Regions from separate parts of the Homo sapiens genome. Here region 1 is linked to region 2. Evidence: fine-mapped expression QTL. A gene starts in region 2. The other region holds a variant in brackets. All regions are shown on one strand. Distances are from middle to middle. Region 1 has its middle 9.9 kb from the start of SLC25A14. Region 2 holds the start of ELF4 (E74 like ETS transcription factor 4).

Region 1 (5,373 bases), 220 kb before region 2:
GAACTGATATTCATAACATAATGGTTTATTTATCTATTTTTCCTGGCTATCATGTGCCTTATATTTTCATAATGAAAAAGGGTACCAATTGTTTAAATGTCTTTAAAAACTACCCATCTACCTATATAGCAAGTTTTAACATGATTCTTCGAGTCATCCCTTACCCAAAAAATTCATCTGATTCTCTACCCTGTAATGTATACTTCATATAAACGTCTATAATCCTTTATTCATCACCTTCTATAACGTTATCGGTAGCCTCACTGGTGTTTTCTTCTTTAAATCTGCTACTCTAAAACAAAGTTCAGCCATTTTTTTCTTTTAAATGGCAAGACATTAAATATTCTAGGCTGTACCTGTCATTCGATCAGTCACAACTACTCAAAGTTGCCACTGTAGCACCAATGCAACCACAGATCACATGTAATAAGTGAACATGGTTGTGTTCCAATAAAATTTCAGGCCAGATATGTTACCAACCGCTGCTCTAAAGAAATCCTAAACTAGTATTGTTTAGGTAGAACTAGCAGTTGAGACTAGAATAAAATAGGATATAATTAAATATCAGAAAATTAAATGGTCCTACTTGCAGACCATAATGTATGATTTAAATATTATACTTAGAAATTTACAAGAATGTGTGAACTGAACTGATAAGCTAAAGAATTTCTAGGTTAAAAAAAATCAAACGTACCCACCTATTCAATGAAAAATTGTCTTACTCTTGGGGAAGAGCTTGGGACAATGATCAGATTCCACCATCTGCTTGCAACCAAGCCCATGCAATTACTAGAAAATGTTGGATACTGGCCAGGTGCAGTGGATCACGCCTGTAATCCCAGCACTTTGGGAGGCCAAGGCAGGCAGATCACCTGAGGTCAGGAGTTCAATACCAGCCTCGGCAACATGACAAAACTCCATATCTACTAAAAGTACAAAAATTAGCTAGGCATGGTGGCATGCACCTGTAATCCCAGCTACTTGGGAGGCTGAGGCAGGAGAATCACTTGAACCCAGGAGGCGGAGGCTGAGGTGAGTCGAGATCAAGCCACTGTACTCCAGCCTGGGTGACTGAGTGAGACCCTGTCTCAAAACAAAAAAAACAAAAAACAAACAAACAAACAAAAAAAACTGAAAATGTTGGGTATAAATGATTCAACAAAGGAGAATTTCTCAGAAATTTCCTGTTTGTCTCCTTGGATTTAAACTCAAAATGGTGGCATAAATTGGCCTAATTAATTCAAGTTGAGGGGTAATATTGCAAAAAGACATAAAGAAAAGCTAGAAGAGAATTTATCAATAAACCGCCTTCCTCTCTGCTCTTATTTTATAAAAAGTAAATAGTAAACCCTCAGAAATGAGAGCATTCTAATCTTAAAGTCGAAAAAAAGAAAAATCCCAAAGGAAAAAAAAAAAGTAATAAATCAAAATCAACCTTGTAATAGCCTTTTCCTAAAAAATGAAAGCAGCAAACATAAAAAGACAGACTAAATGAATCTACATCACATTGAAAAATTACAGATTACATCTTTATTACATTGACTGGTTTTTCCTTGGAATCAGATTCCTTGCTGTTCCAATACGGCTTTAACCACTTCTTGATGTCTCAGTTAAGAATGCTTGTCTCAGTTCAGCCTGGAAATTCACCACAGGTGCTTGCTGCTGCTGAGAAGCCTCGGGTATAACTGACATTCTTGGTTCTCAGGAGGTGGTCCTTTTGCGTTTAACTTGGACTTCCACCTCTGGCACGTGCTGGTCTGTAGTCCGTCTCAGGTGTTAGTGATCCCTTGCTCTCTCCAGCACGCCACTGACAGCTCCTCGGGCATCAGAGACCTCTAGCGGCCAGCCGCTCTGCTCTGCCAACAAAGATTTAAACACACACAACACACACACACACACACACACAAAATCCCATTGCCCAGTGAAACACACGTTAATGCAATCTTTCTGGGATTTCTTTTTATGACAATTGTTTCTTCAAATAAAAGTTTTGTTTGTTCCCATGGAATTCTAAACATGCTTTTAAAGGAATAATATTTTAGAAATGTACTTACTTTGAAATACACAATTTTCCAAATAATATGCAGCCGTCAGAAATTATGCTTATGGGAGCTATGTAATAATAATTAATAAAACCTACCATCTATAGACTGCCTACTATATTCCAGAGACTTTACGTACAACAACTCTAATCCTTACAACAACCCTATGTAGCCTTTAGCATTTGACAGAACAGGTTTCGCCAGCTGTGTGGTCTTGCATAAGTATCCAATCACCCTGTCTTCAAGTTTCCTCACCTGTGAAAACAAGGATCTACCAGACCTATCTCTGGACTTACTGAGCATTCAAATGAGCTGATTCACATAAGGCACCTGGAACAGAGCCTGACACATCATAAGCACTCAATACCTGTCTATTATCACCAAAAAGGGGCGTGCCTTAAAATTTAAACATGACAGAATAAAATCAAACCATGACAAGTACCAGAAGAAGATGTAGGT[G/A]AACAGTATTATTATAACCCTGGGGTGAGCAAGACCTTTCTAAGCACACTACAAAAGGTAGAGACAGTAAAAGCAAAGGATTAATAAAACTGACCACTCAATGAAAAATCACTTCTGAACAGCAGAAAACACCACCAAGTTAGACGAAAAGCAATAAATTGGAGGAAAAAAAAAAAGGCAGGGCACGGTGGCTCACGCCTGTAATCCTAGCACTTTGGGAGGCTGAGGCAGGCAGATCAACTGAGGTCAGGAGTTCGAGACCAGTCTGGCCAACATGGCAAAACCCCGTCTCTACTAAAAATACAAAAATTAGCTGTGCATGGTGGCACACACCTGTAATCCCAGCTACTCGGGAGGAAGGGAAGGAGAATCACTTGAACCCGGGAGGCGGAGGTTCCAGTGAGCTGAGATCACACCACTGCACTCCAGCCTGGGCGACAGAGCAAGACTCTGTCTCAAAAAAAAAAAAAAAAAAAAAAGATTACATATTTGATGGACAAAAGGCTATTGTCTTTAATATACAGTGAGCTTTACAAGTTAAAAGAAACTTGTAAGTTTTTTTTAAAAAGAAACTTGTAAAGCTCACAGTACATTAAAGGGGAGGGGAGGGCAGTGAGAGATGAGATCAGGGAGGTACCAGGGGTGGGGAGATCAGATGGGGCTCTGTGTATCATGCTAAGGACTTTGGATTCTAAGTGTACAAACACTCAAAGATATTTTCCTTTAAAAATAGGCAAAGAACATAAACAGCAGAGCAGGACCGTTTGATGTGGCCATTTTATCCACAGGGACATTTTGATAAGCCCTGCTGACACAGCTATCCCTAACCTCCAGTCTAGTAGACTTTTCACTTTCTACTTTATTCCTTTCTGCATCATTTAAATTTTCTTCTATAAATGTGTGACTTGTCATCAGGGAAAAAGAAAGAAAGAAAAAACTTATTAGACAAGGTTAGCCTCTAAGAGGAAACCAAATCATCTTTATAAAATAAATTTTATGGTATTAAATATAACATTTGAAACTTAAGTCCTGAGAGAAAAGTTAAGAATTTAGTTGAGCATTTCCTCTATAGCCTAGAGCTGAAAATAAAATATCTTACTGTGTTCCAAATACCCTCCTTCTTCCCCTCCACCTACTGTCTATCTATATCTAATTCATTCATTCATTAGGCTCTTACTGAGCCCCAGCTTTGTGCCAGGCATGGTGCTAGGCTTCAGGACCTCCCAGCGAACCAGAAACAGTCCCTGCCCCCATGGTGCAGACAGTCTCATTGGGAGTTGGAGGAGGAGCAGGTAAAAAATAATTAAATATTCAGGTTAACGATATATTGTCAGGTGTGAGGAAAGGGCGCAGAGAATGGCAGGGGCAGCTGTTTTAGCTACAGTGGCCAGGAGGCCTCCAATGGAGTGATCTTTGAGCAGAGGCATGCAGGAGATGAGGGGACAGTGATGAGGATTTCTAAGAACACTCCAGGCAAAGACCTGAAGCAGGCAGGGGCCTGGTGTGTGTTCGCCAGCATGGCTGGAGCAGAGCCATGAAGGGGGAAGGCAGTGGGAGATGAAGGCAGGGAGTCCCCCGGGGGTGGGGAGATCAGGTGGGGCTCTGTGTATTATGCTAAGGACTTTGGATTCTGTTCCAAGAGCTGGAAAGGTTGACGTGATCGGGGGAAAGCAAGCCCACACAAAGCAGAGGTGTCCAGTCTTTATATTTTTAAATGAAAAAAAAAGAGTAACTTCCATTAAAACAAGTGACTCCTGGTTTTGTGTAATAGTAGACCAAATGGTGCCCAATCCCTAACCATCCCTTACTCCCATATCTAACCTGTACCTCAGAGTGGCAGTGGTTAGCAATAGAGAATTCTTCTGTTTGGTTGTTGTGAAGAAGGAGTTAACACAGTATGTTTGGTGGCTTACTCCTTGCATGTCTCCAAGCCACCCCTTGGGAATGTAGCCTTCAGCATGTTCTTTAGGTCACTGATGGATTGACTGTTTTGTTCTGTACACCTGGAGTAACGCACCATGCCATGGCATCTTGTTAGGGTTGCTTTGCCCAAACATCAAGATTGATGTATGTGAACCTGGTTTCGTTGTTGGAGTCCTGACCACAATCAGTGGCACAGTCTCGGCTCACTGCAACCTCTGCCTCCTGGGCTCAAGTGATTCTCCTGCCTCAGCCTCCCGAGCATCTAGGATTACAGGGACATGCCAACACGCCTGGCTAATTTTTGTATTTTTAACAGAGACAGGGTTTCACCATGTTGGCCGGGCTGGTCTCGAACCCCTGACCTCAAGTGATCTGCCAGCCTCGGCCTCCCAAAGTGCTGGGATTACAGGCATGAGCCACCGCGCCCAGCCTCCTGAGTTTCAATTGCCATGGCCAGTTGTGCATATATGACTAAGCATTCCATCAGAGCCTCAGACCTTGAGACTTGAAACAGCCTTCACTGGGCACAGATATTCCACACATGTCCCTGAAGTTCACTGCTACAAGAAATTGAAAGGGGAACTATAAAGTATTGTAAACTAAAAGAAAAATGAAAAAGCAACATAATTAAAGCTGTGGGATGCAGCTCAAGCAGTACTCAGAAGAGTATTCAAATCACTAAATCCCTATATTAGAAAAGCTGAAAGCCCGCAAATCAATGACCTCAGCTTTGCTCTTAAGAAACAAACAAAAAACGAAACAAAAAAAAAATAACAAATTTAACTTAAAGTAAGCAGAAGAAAGGAAATAATAATGGTAAGGGGAAAAAATCAATAAAATAGGAAATAGGAAAAAACAGAGATAAAGCAATTAAATCAAAAGTTGGTTCTTTGAAAAGACCAATAAAATGTAAAAATCTGTATCCAGAATGATCAGGAGAAAGAAAGAA
Region 2 (5,373 bases):
AGCTTGCAGTGAGCCGAGATCGCGCCACTGCACTCCAGTCTGGGAGAAAGAGCGAGACTCCATCTCAAAAAAAAAAAAAAAAAAAAAGAAGGAAAAAAAAAAAAGAAAAAGAAAACACACAAAGAAAGGAGAAATGCTTGAGGTGACAGATACCCCATTTACCCTGATGTGATTATTACACATTGCATGCCTGTATCAAAACATCTCATGTAACCCATAAATACACACACCTACAATGTACCCATAAAAATAAAAAACAAAAATAAAAAAATTAATTTATTTAATTTATTTATTTTTTTGAGATGGAGTCTCACTGTGTCATCCAGGCTGGAGTGCAGTGGCACGATCTCGGCTCACTGCAACCTCTGCCTCCCAGGTTCAAGTGACTCTCCTGCCTCAGCCTCCCGAGTAGCTGGAACTACAGGCATGCACCACCACACCGGCTAATTTTTGTATTTTTAGTAGAGATGGGGTTTCACCATGTTGGCCAGGCTGGTCTTGAACTCCTGACCTCAAGTGATCCACCCCGCTCGGCATCCCAAAGTGCTGGGATTACAGGCATGAGTCACCACACCCAGCCTAGTTTTTGTTTTTGTTCTGTTTTAAAGAAGAAAAGTGAGGCTCAGAGAGTTTAAGTGACTTGCCTGAAGTCACACAGCTGGTAAATAGTGAGCTGGAATAGGAACCCAGGTCTGTCTGAGGTTACAGACCACTGAGCTCTTAGCAAAATGGGAAAGTGTGTGTGTGTGCACGCGTGTGCAGACGTGTCTGTCCATTCGTGAATTTCAAAGTCAAGGTAAAGAGGGCTTAGGGACATCCGGAACCTACCCCAAATTTGAGAGGGGACCTCGTGGATGAGAGGCCAGCAGAGAACTGTGTGTCTCCAGGATCTGGAATCCCCTGGGAAAAGCATGCCCGCTTGGAAAAGACAAAGTGCTTGTTTTGGGGACTTGATTCTGAGTATCCAGGAGGTCTCAGGGGCCGGCGCCCCAGTCCAGCCACAGGATCTTTCCTTGGGAACTTGTAATCTGCAGCTGCCTTTGTGGCCATCATCCACCACCACTCCTGTCCCCCAGTCCTGCGCCTGAGATGATCCTTTCCCAAGGCAGGAGAAGCAGGCCGATGCTGGAGGCTGAGTAGGTCCTTCAACCTCAAGCCCTTTAGAAGGCCCCATCCCCTGGGGCTCCTTCAGTCTTGATGCTTTCTGCCAAGGCTTAGGCCTTGCTGCCCCCACCCCCAAAAAGGCCACGTGGAACTATACAGAGTAACAATTCCCAGCGCACTCTCTCCAGAGCCTCCTATCAGCAGACCCACGTAGGCGGCGGTATTGATGTTGAGGCAGGTCAGAGAGGGCAAAGGGGAGATAGAAGGGGAGCGTGCCTGAGTGGCTTTCAAGTGGGCGCGTGGAGCAGAGCAGCCTGGCTTTGGACAGGGGAAGAAAGGTAGGCATGGGCTTTCTTCCAGCACCCGAACTCTGGCTCTCTTTGCACTTGCTGGGCCAGCCCCTCTCCCCCTAGCCCTTCCCCTGACTCATATCTTGCCAGCGTCCCCCACCCCAACTTCCCGCAGGAGTCCTAGACTCGACTTCCCTAAGAAGTCGCCGAAACTCTCCAGTCACCCCAGGTGTTACGCCCAGGATTCTGCGGAGTCGGGCATATGGTTCCAAAATTGTATCCTCTGGGCATCTCGCGGCCTCACCCGCCGCACGGCCCGCCCTCCCGCTGGGGCCTGCACACCCCAGGAGCTCAATAATGTGGAGCGCAGGGCTTGGCCCAAAGGCGTCAAGCAAGTCTCCACTTGCACGGGCCGAGGGGGCTGGACGAAACCTTCCCGAGTCCGCGGGGAAGGGATTTCTCTGCGGGGCGTTGTATGGGGGCTTCGCACCGGGAAGGGCGCGGAACGAGCAGAGAGCTCGGAGTCTCGCTGGCTAGAAGCAGAGTGGGGAGCGCCCGCCCGGGCCGCGGCGCACGACGCGGGCTCTGCGGGCGCCCTGCCTCGTGGTCCCCCGGGCGCGAGCGAGCCGCGAGGGGAATGAGAGGCCGCGCGGGCCCCTGGCACGGCTCCCCATGCCGTGCTGGCGACCGCGGCGGGCGGGCCGGGGCGGACGGGCGCTGTTTCCACCGAGATGCCTCGTCCCTCCCTCGTTCCCTCCCCCACCCCGCCCGCCCGCAGTCCCTCCCGTCGGTCCCTCCCTCCGGCTCTTCCCTCCCTCCCGCCCTGCCTCCTTCGCGCCCGCCCCATCCGCCGCCTGCGGGGACGTGTGTGTCTCTACTGCATTTCCCCTTTCGCTCGCTCGTTTCGGTGCATGTCTGCGCCGGTTCGCGCCCCCTCCCCGGGCGCCCCTGCCGCCCCGTGTCTTGGCCCGGCCCTCCCCGGCGTCCGCCCCGCTCCCCGCGCGCTCCACCCCGCCCCCCGCCCCGTTTTATCAGGGGCGCCGCCGTCTCACCTGGTATTTGCATCTCTCCCTCCAACTTGCCATTGGCGGCGCGAAGTGTGGGAGAGCCCTGCGCCTCGCCCGCCCGGACCAGCCTGCCCCGGCGCCGAGGTGAGTCACGGGCGCGGGGTGGCGGGGGCAGGCGGGCGGGGAAGAAGGGCGGGCGGGGAGGAGGGCGGGGGACGGCGGCCCCGGCGGCCGCGGGGACCGACCGGGCGCCGCGCTCAACTTCCACTTCTCCTTTCGCCGGCGCCGAGTTCCTGGCGCCGCTCGCCCGGCCCGGCTTCCGAGGGGAGAGGACGGGCTGGCGGGGCTGGGGACCCGCGTCTCGGCCCCCGGAGCGGGGACCACGGAGACAGACCCCGGCCCGGCGACCGAGCTGGGCCCGTGAGCCACTCGGCCTCAGGTACGTCGATGGCGCCGGTTCTTCGAGCCTTGGGGGACGTGGAAAAGTTTGCTTGAGGGCGGAATCGAGAGCGCCGGGGCCCCGGCGTGGGGCTGGGGGCCCAGGGAAGGGCGGGAGAGTCGCGGAGTGTCGCGAGCCGCCCTGGAGTCGCCCCGCCGCGCGTGTGATGGAGAACCCGGGCTCCCGATCCCGGGATGGAAGTGGAATGGATTCCCCGAGTCGGGGAGTCGGGGTAGGGGCCCCTGTTTTCCCTCGCCCCCGGCAGCCTGGGTTCCGTGACGGGGCCGATCATGACAGCGGGCCCCCAGAAGCTGGGCGCCCGAGGGCAGAGGAGGTGGGGCGGACCGCGGCGGAGCTGCTAGATGGATCCGACTGCCCCCGGGGCTTCTGGGGCCAGGGCTTTAGGGTCACACGCACACACGCGCACGCAGACCTATGATGTGGAGAACTGGATCGCCAAAATAGAGACCTCTTGGCAGGGGCCGGAGTTTCCGTGTGAGCCAGCCGCCAGCCTTCCCGCTCCCGCGTTCCCGCTCTCCCCGACTCTCCCGCCTCCGGGTTCCCTCCTGGGCCGCCGCCTAGGGGATTCAGCAGCCGCACCGTGCGGGGTCCCCTCACGCCAGCGCCTTGCTTTGGAGGCTTGAGGGACTGCTGAGGCGGTGACCGCTTTATGAATTCCTGGCTCCTCCACCGCACCCTAACCCTGACTCCCTTTTCTCACCACCGTATGCCTGCACATCACCTTCCTGACCAGAGTCACCTCCTGACCCCTTGGCACCTCGGCTCAGCGAGGTCCTCCTGGGCCGCCCCCGCCCCGCACCATACCCCAGCTGAGGGATTTGATGGCCATTTGATTCCTGCCCCTCATCCCTCGGCCTGTGATAGAGGCCTGTCTGGTCCTGCAGCCTCTTCTGGTTAATGTTTGACAGTTCATTGTGGCTAATTATTTTAATTAGCTCTTAAAGTGGGAAAGAACAGTTAACCTTGGACTTCTCGATTTTGGCCTGGTGGGGCCTCAAATGGGAGGAGTGCTGGGGAGGTGGGGAGGTAGGAGCGGAAGTGAGGTCACCACCCCAGGGCCTGAACCACCACTGCTCAGCCCCAACAGCTGGTGGGCACGCCCATTGGGGACTCACCCCCTGCCAGCTGACCCCTGGCCCGAGTGCCAGGTTGGAGGTGGGTGAAGGGAACAGTTCTAGCTCTTCCCTTTGGGGAGACTTTGGCACTGAAAATGCCCGGGGAACACATATGCCCAGCAAGAATGCCAGTCCTTCCTTGCAGTTAGTTACACTGGGTTTTCCTGGTTATAAAGTGCTTTCTCAACCATTAATTCAGATTCAGTGCATCCAGTACAGGAGCAGCGTAGGGGGAGCTCTCTGGAGTTCAGTGAAGATTATCAGGGAGGACTTCCTATCCCAGCCAGCTGGTGTGAGGAAGAGGCTACCTTGCATCTGGTTGTTTTTGGGGCTGGATTCAGAGCCTGGGATCTCTTGTTGGGGGCAGGGGTGGGGGGGACCATGAAGCAGGCTCCATGCTACCACCCTCACCCAGCCTCTTGCTGTGAGCCGAAGGAGTGGCTTGTTTGCAACTATGTCTGGCATTCCTCCCTGTGCTGCACTGTTTGCTCGGTGGTTGCTCAGGAACTGGCGCCCACCCCTGGACAACCTAGGGGCCCAAAATTCACTCTCCCTCACCTAGTGCTAAGTGGTGACACAGTGGCTTCTGTCTTCTCTGGCATATATTGGGATCTAAAATAGAGGGTGCTGTGGTCTGTCTCTAGGGGCCTGAGTGATAGCATGTCCAAAATGCCCCTCATCTTGCAAAAATCAGGCCCTGTGCCGCACAGACCCAGCTAGACACAGGCTGAGGAGTTTGCTTTCCTGGGGAAACCTCTGCTCTTCTGCTCTTAAGCTTGGCCTTCTTCCTTTCCACATCCCCTACCCCCGCAATGTAATTTTACATCCAGTTTTTGTTTTTGCGTTTAGAGTGTTGTTTTTTTTTTGGTTTTTGTTTTTTAATTCAGGGTCTCACTTTGTCACCCAGGCTGGAGTGCAGTGGCACAGTCACAGCTCACTGTAATCTTGAACTCCTTACCTCCAGTTCTTTTTTTTTTTTTGAGATGGAGTTTCACTCTTGTTGCCCAGGCTGGAGTGCAATGGCACGATCTTGGCTCGCCGCAACCTCCGCCTCCCAGGTTCAAGTGATTCTCCTGCCTCAGCCTCCCGAGTAGCTGGGATTACAGGCATGTACCACCACGCCCGGCTAATTTTGTATTTTTGGTAGAGACGGGGTTTCTCCGTGTTGGTCAGGCTGGCCTCGAACTCCTGACCTCAGGTGATCCACCCGCCTCCGCCTCCCAAAGTGCTGGATTATAGGCGTGAGCCACTGTGCCCAGCTACCTCCAGTTCTTAAAGCCTGGCTGTCTAGGTTGAAATCCCAGCATTGTTATTTACTAGCTATGTGATCCCAGTCAATTGTATGCCCCAGTTTCCTTATCTGTCACATGAGACCACTTTATAACACTTTGGTGAGG

What was found. PIP is the estimated chance that this variant, and not a neighbour inherited with it, causes the effect.
Region 1: its variant is fine-mapped to the expression of ELF4 in whole blood (TOPMed, PIP above 0.99).

What each region holds. Positions count from the first base shown.
Region 1 is chrX:130,327,284-130,332,656 of GRCh38, reverse strand. It overlaps the pseudogene LOC112268303. Among named protein-coding and RNA genes, the nearest start is that of SLC25A14, 9.9 kb to the left of the region's middle. The variant G/A (reference allele first, on the strand shown) is at 2,502.
Region 2 is chrX:130,107,792-130,113,164 of GRCh38, reverse strand. It overlaps ELF4 (E74 like ETS transcription factor 4), which reads left to right and starts at 2,668. Exons shown (of 9, transcript NM_001421.4): 1 at 2,668-2,840. It also overlaps a transcript of RAB33A not described here. RefSeq lists silencers at 1,937-2,056, 2,127-2,176, 2,187-2,236, 2,487-2,636, 2,717-2,786.